Homo sapiens: one gene and its partner. The protein of the gene in region 1 purifies or fractionates together with the protein of each later gene. This does not show direct contact. Each region holds a gene or a part of one and is shown on either strand. Other genes may lie near its edges.

Region 1 (3,189 bases):
GAGATAGGGTTTCACCATGTTGGCCAGGCTGGTCTCGAACTTCTGACCACCTTGGCCTCCCAAAGTTCTGGGATTACAGGCGTGAGCCACCACGCCCTGCCTGAGTCACTAAATTCTTACACTGTTCCCTCCTATGTTAGTCCGCTAGGGCTGCCGAAACAAGGTACCACAGGCTGAGTGACTTAAACAACAAAAATTAATTTTCTTTGACTTCTGGAGGATAGAAGTCCAAGATCAAGATGTCGGCAGGTTTGGTTTCTTCTGAGGCCTCTCCTTGGCTTGCAGATGGCCACCTCCCACTACATCCTTAGATGTGTTCCTCTATGTTGTCTGTATCCTAATCTCCTCTTCCTATAAGTACACCAGTAATATTGAATTAGGGCCCACCCATAATACCCTATTTTGCTTTTTATTTCACTATTAGTTTTTTTTTTAAAGCTATTTTTGCCAGTTAATTTAAACATCATGATCTTCTTCTAATGATAAAAATGCAAGTCTTCATGCTAACAAAAGGATTGGAAGAAGGATGAAGCAGATGTTTCTTCTCCCCTACAGCAATCTGGTTAAATGAGGAGTTAAATTGAGAGCTTTCATGAGAATTTCAGTCCAGTTCTGTGCAATGAAGACGAGTGATTCAAAACTTTCACTAACTTGCTCTGTTGTTTGTAATATAATGTTATTGGAAGAGTTATTTTAACAAAGGGGAACTGTTATATTTCTAAAACTTTTAAAATTGTTGCCATGTCTTGGGAAAATAACTTCAGTATCTGTCTTGATAATTTCTTGCCCTGATGATACCATTGAAAGTCATTTCTCTATGTTTCCAAAAGTTGTACAATTACTAGTAAGATTTATCTGCCAGTTAATAATTTTTCTTTTCTTCCACATGCATGAAGGAGTATTTGTAATGACTTTTATATTTTATCATTAACATTATTTTTTTGAACTCTTAAAATGCGTATTTTTTTTTTACATTAATAGACTTCCTTTTTTCAGAGCAATTTTTGGTTTACAGAAAATTGAGCAGAAGATACAGAGTTCCCACATACTTCCTTTCCCCCACCTCAGTTTCTCCTAAGTTATTAACAACTTACACTGGTGTGGTACATTTGTTACAAATGATGAACTAATATTGATAGCTTATTATTAACTAAAATATATAGTTTACATCAGGGTTCACTCACTGTATGAAGTTCTGTGGGTTTTGTCAAGTGCATAACATCTACCATTTTATAATATATGCCATTACAGTAGCATACAAAAGAGTTTCATTTACCTAAAAATCTCTTCTGCGCCACCTCAAATAATTTCTTCTGAGTTAAAACCACTGTGTGGTGAGAGCTCCTTCCTTTTCCAACCTCCTTGTCCTTTATGGAAATGGTAAGAGCTTTTACCCATCTCTCTGGTCCCTTTTCATTATGTGTGTATCTGTCTCCCACATTTGTAAGGTCTCTAGAGAGTCAGTGACCTGGTCTCCTAATCAGCTTCCTAAAGGTGAGTTTCAAGAATTAAATCCGTATTTATATACTCAGATACAGCATCCAGGCAGTGGCCTATTTTTCCTGATTTTATTTTGTCACCTGCTGTATTTTGGCCTTTGACATGTGGAGATCATGGCCCCCCTACTTCGGATGGACTTCAATGGATCTAACTCGAAGAAGACTGAACCCAGGAAAAGAGACTGTGTGAGCATTCTCACACCAGGAAATGGGCTGAGAAACAATTTTGGAGTGAGATGGAAGGAGAATGGTATGGAGTATCTATTCTTAGGGAAATGTGTGCTAGGCCAAAATCTCACTTTTTGGTTAAACACTCTCATTCTCTGATAACATAAAGGCCTCTAAAAATATATGCAGAATATTTGGGGTAACCTTATTATTCATTGCCCAAGTTAGGTCACCTTTCAAAGTAAAAGGGAACATTATGAATAATTATACTAGGGCAACAGGTATAAATCAAGTCACCCTACCATTAGACCAAGTGATTTTCACTGGTTCCTTCATTGTAAGAGTAACTCCTTTTGTTTCCTAAAAATTGTTAAAATGATTCCTTAATGTTGCATTTGAAATAAAGGGAAAAAGACAAAAATTAGCAATAAATTCATGTAATGTCTAGGCAAGGATTTCTTCAGAAGAGAGCAGGTCAGGTGTAGTTAGATCAGTAGAACTGTATGTCTCAGTGGCACCATTACCTTTTTTTTTTTTTTTTTTGAAGCAGAGTCTCACTCTGTCCCCCAGGCTGGAGTGCAGTGGCACAATCTCGGCTCACTGCAACCTCCGCCTCCCAGGTTCAAGCAATTCTCAGGTGGATCACCTGATGTCAGGAGTTCGAGACTAGCCTGGCCAACACGGTGAAACCCTGTCTCTAGTAAAAATACAAAAATTGGCTGGGTATGGTGGCGTGCGCCTGTAATCCCAGCTACCCAGGAGGCTGAGGCAGGAGAATTGCTTGAACCCGGGAGGCAGAGGTTGCAGTGAGCCGAGATCGCACCACTGCACTCCAGCCTGGGTGACAGAACGAGACTCTGAGACTCTATCTCAAAAAAAAAAAAAAAAAAAAAAAAAAACTGGAGCAATTTGGAGACAAGATTAAAAAAATAATAATAACATTGTAGAATGGTGGCCACTCACAAGGTTACAGAATTTCCCAGTAAATGTTTTCAAGGGTGGGGCAGAAGGTATGATAGACAAAAGCTTTAAAAAAGTCACACAGTGCCCATGAATGCCAGCCCTAGGCCTAAGTCCTAATTACTCAAACTCAAACTATTTTCCATTTCCTACCTGTGTGGCTCTCAATCTGTGCTCTGGGCTACCCACATTTTTTAGTACTTTTATTAATTCTTGAGCAGACACATACAATTTTTCTGTGTAAGACATAGGTAATACTCCAGCCATGTGCTTCCCCTACAGTTTAAAGAAGAGAATGCAACCTCCCCCATCTCTGGACTAACCTCCATGCCTTCTCCAACTACATCCCTTTCCCAACTCCCAAGAGATGACCACTGTCCAATTTTTATTTATCCCTTTTTTTTTAAGTTTTACTATATGTTTGTGGCCTCAACATGTCATAGTTTTACATGTGTAAATGGATCTATAGTGTACATATTCTTCTGCAACTTGCTATTTTTCTTCGGCATTATATTCTTGAGATTCATCCTCGTTTTTGAACCTACCTGTAATCTATTTGTTT
Region 2 (3,655 bases), about 16 Mb from region 1:
TTCTCATTCATTTGTTCATATTTTCCTCTCCCTATTATCCTATTTCTCACTTTGGAAAGTTTGGTTTCCCACATTTGCTTCCCTAGAAAAAAGCTTATCTATTAGCAACTCTTAGAAAAATAGGATTTATGCACCCATAAAAAGGAATGAGATCATGTCCTTTGCAGGGATGTGGATGGAGTTGGAAGCCATTATCCCCAGCAAACTAATGCAGGAAGAGAAAATTAAACACTGGCTAGGCGAGGTGGCTCATGCCTGTAATCCCAGCACTTTGGGAGACCGAGACAGGCAGATCACTTGAGGTCAGGAGTTCAATACCAGCCTGGCCAACATGGCGAAACCCCGTCTCTACTGAAAATACAAAAATTAGCTGGATGTGGTGGTGTGTGCCTGTAGTCCCAGCTACTCAGGAGGCTGAGGCACAAGAATCGCTTGAACCCGGGAGATGGAGGTTGCAGTGAGCCGAGCTCTGCCACTGCACTCCAGCCTGGGTGACAGAGAAAGACTGCATCTCAAAAAAGAAGGAAAGAAAGAAATAGAAAAGAAAAGAAAAAGAAAACCAAACACCACATGTTCTCACACAGGGGAAAAACAACACACACTGGGGCCTGTGGGAGGGGAAGGGTTGCGGGAAGGAGAGCATTAGAAAGAACAGCTAATGGATGCTGGGCTTAATACCTAGGTGATGGGATGATCTGTAAAGCAAACCACCATGGGACGTTTACCTACGTAACAAACCTGCACATCCTGCATGTGTACCCCTGAACTTAAAAGTTGAAGGAAAAAAAGAAAAAAGAAAAAAAGGATTTATACAAGAAATAAAGGAAACCAAGAAACCAAGAGCCCTACTTCATTCACCCCCCAATCTAAACTCCTTCTATGTAATTCCTTTTCTTATTGTTGAACACTTGTACTAATGGGTTTGGGCAGATCAAATTTAACTTATTTCTTCCAAACCTGAGAGAGAAGCCTTCTTTGTAACAAACTAGGACTAGGAGATAGAGAAAAAAAGAATGTATATTTGAATCACTCAAAGCTCAGCTTCTGATGAAGAGCAAGACAGCTGTTAAAGCAGCAATGGACAGTCTGCCATGTGTGAAAGTGTCCCCCAAAATTCATTTGCTGAAACTTAGTTGCCAATGTGATAGTTTAAGAGGTGAGACCTTTAGGAGGTGATGGTGACTAAGTCATAAGGGCAAACCCTCATGAACGGGATTAGAGGACTGGCGACATTATAAAAGTTGTTTTTTTTGGCAGGGCGCGGTGGCTCACGCCTGTAATCCCAGCACTTTGGGAGGCTGAGGCGGGCGGATCACTTGAGGTCAAGAGTTCAAGACCAGCTTGGCCAACATGGTTAGACCCGTCTCTACTAAAAATACAAAAATTAGCTGGGCGTGGTGGCAGGCACCTATAATCCAAGCTACCTGGGAGGCTGAGGCAGGAGAATCGCTTAAACCCAGGAGGCAGAAGCTGCAGTGAGCCGAGATCGCGCCACTGCACTCCAGCCTGGGTGACAGAGCGAGAAGCCCCCCCGCCCCCGCCAAAAAAAAAGTTGTTTTTTTCGTTTGTTTGTTTGCTTTTTTTAAACTGGCTCCAACTCTCAAGCTTGACCTTACAGAATTGTGCAGGGATCTGCTTTGCCCTTCTACCATGAGGACACAGCAACAGAGAGCCAGTCCTTACGAGACAAGAAAATCTGCTGGTGCCTTAATCTTAGACTTCCCAGCCTCTACAACTGTGAGAAATAAATCTCTATTATTGATAAATTATTCAGTCTAAGGTATTTTGTTATAGCAGTCTGAATAAACTAAGGGAACACCTAATAGAAGGAAGCCATTTATCGCTGCAAATTTACTGCTGGAAACCAATGCCTGGTGTGGATCCTCTGAAATACATGTAAGATTGGGTAGGAAAAAGGGCACCATTTTATCTGCCTTTCTTTGCAGAAAACCAACTTTCTTGGCTGAGTTACTCCTCATTCTCTGTCCCCTGGGAAAATGCAACAAAAACAGCATAAAATGTTTGGTACTGAAGAAAAAAATTTACCTGTTCAGTCTTTCTCTCCCTTGATTCTGCCACTATCCTGGGTACCTTGACCACCAGTGTGGAAAACCAAACCACAAGCCGGGAACTGTAGTACTACTTCTTGACTTCAACTCCAGTGACCTTTGCCTCCCCTGCATTTCAGTCCCCTACACCCACAGCCTGGGCATCGTTACCACATAGAGCTGTTCCACGTTAGAACTCTTGACCTCTAGGAAGCTATTTGCTGACCACAAGCTCACATCTTCCCATCCCTTTCATGCCTCTCTGCACTCACACTCCACCTGCTTTTGTATTTCAGAGATCTCCAGGCCCTTGACAACACATTTTCTTTTCTTTTCCTCTTTTTTTTTTTTTTTTTTTTTTGAGACAGAGTCTCGCTCTGTCGCCTAGGCTAGAGTGCAGTGGCACAGTCTCAGCTCACTGCACACTCTGCCTCCCCAGGTTCAAGCGATTCTCCTGCCTCAGCCTCCTAAGTAGCTGGGACTACAGGTACGTGCCACCATGCCCAGCTAAGGTTATGTATTTTTCGTAGAGACGGGGTTTCTCCTTGTTAGCCAGGATGGTCTCAATCTCCTGACCTCACGCTCGGCCCACCTCGGCCTCCCAAAGTGCTGGGATTACAGGCGCGAGCCACCGCGCCTGGCCTTTGACAACACATTTTCTCTATGTTGACAACCTAATCCACTCCTTCACCAAAATTCTTAATTCTCTTGTAACTCAATCCTTCTACCGCACACACCAAGTAACCTTCCTCTCTCTAGGGAAATGTCTGTGGCTTATTACTGAATAAACTCAGAAAATCTTGCAAACTGATGTTACTCAATCCGTAGCTGCCAATTCCAATGGGGCAGGCCTTCATCAGTCCTTCTGTTGGGGTTCTCAGTCAGCACCCCTCCGATACAAACTGGCAGTACTTTCCTCAAGCCCACATCATTCATTTGCTAGCTTGCTCCCTCCCTCCCTCCCAATTCAGTCTCTAACTGGCTCTCTCAAGGACTCCAGGATCTGGTCCCATCTACTTCTCTAGCCCCTCAAACTCCCAATTTAACCTTCTCATAATCCGGAACTGCTTACGGTTCCCTATGAACACCAGTGGTCAAAAGCATGGGCTCTAGGCCCAGGTTCAAGTTCTAGTTCCAGTGTTTGAGACCTTCGGCAAGTCAAGTAACATCTTTGAAACTAGGTGTTCTCTTCTACTTTCTTGGCACACAGAGGGGTACATAATATGCCCTCAATAAAGTCAGATATTGCTATGACGCTACATCTTTGAAACTAGGTGTTCTCTTCTACTTTCTTGGCACACAGAGGGGTACATAATATGCCCTCAATAAAGTCAGATATTGCTGTGACGCTACATCTTTGAAACTAGGTGTTCTCTTCTACTTTCTTGGCACACAGAGGGGTACATAATATGCCCTCAATAAAGTCAGATATTGCTATGATGCTACTACTTGTGCTCCTCACACTGCCGGCTCTGCCTGGAATGTCCTTTCTCCCTCCTTGCAAACTTTACCTGCCCAATAACTGACATTTCTCTTTTAAGATAATTCAGATGTCATTTTAAGGAAGGTTTCAGTGAAAACCTCACTCTGACTGGGTTAAATGCCTC

What was found. Proteins that work in one complex are often made in the same cells at the same time.
Region 2: the proteins of HMGN4 (region 1) and PAK1IP1 purify together in Homo sapiens (affinity purification with mass spectrometry; one large-scale study listed by BioGRID and IntAct). This does not show direct contact.

The regions. Positions count from the first base shown.
Region 1 is NC_000006.12:26,541,230-26,544,418, forward strand, and holds part of HMGN4 (high mobility group nucleosome-binding domain-containing protein 4), read left to right. Parts: intron 1-3,189.
Region 2 is NC_000006.12:10,697,955-10,701,609, reverse strand, and holds part of PAK1IP1 (p21-activated protein kinase-interacting protein 1), read right to left. Parts: intron 1-3,655. UniProt on the Homo sapiens protein: Negatively regulates the PAK1 kinase. PAK1 is a member of the PAK kinase family, which has been shown to play a positive role in the regulation of signaling pathways involving MAPK8 and RELA.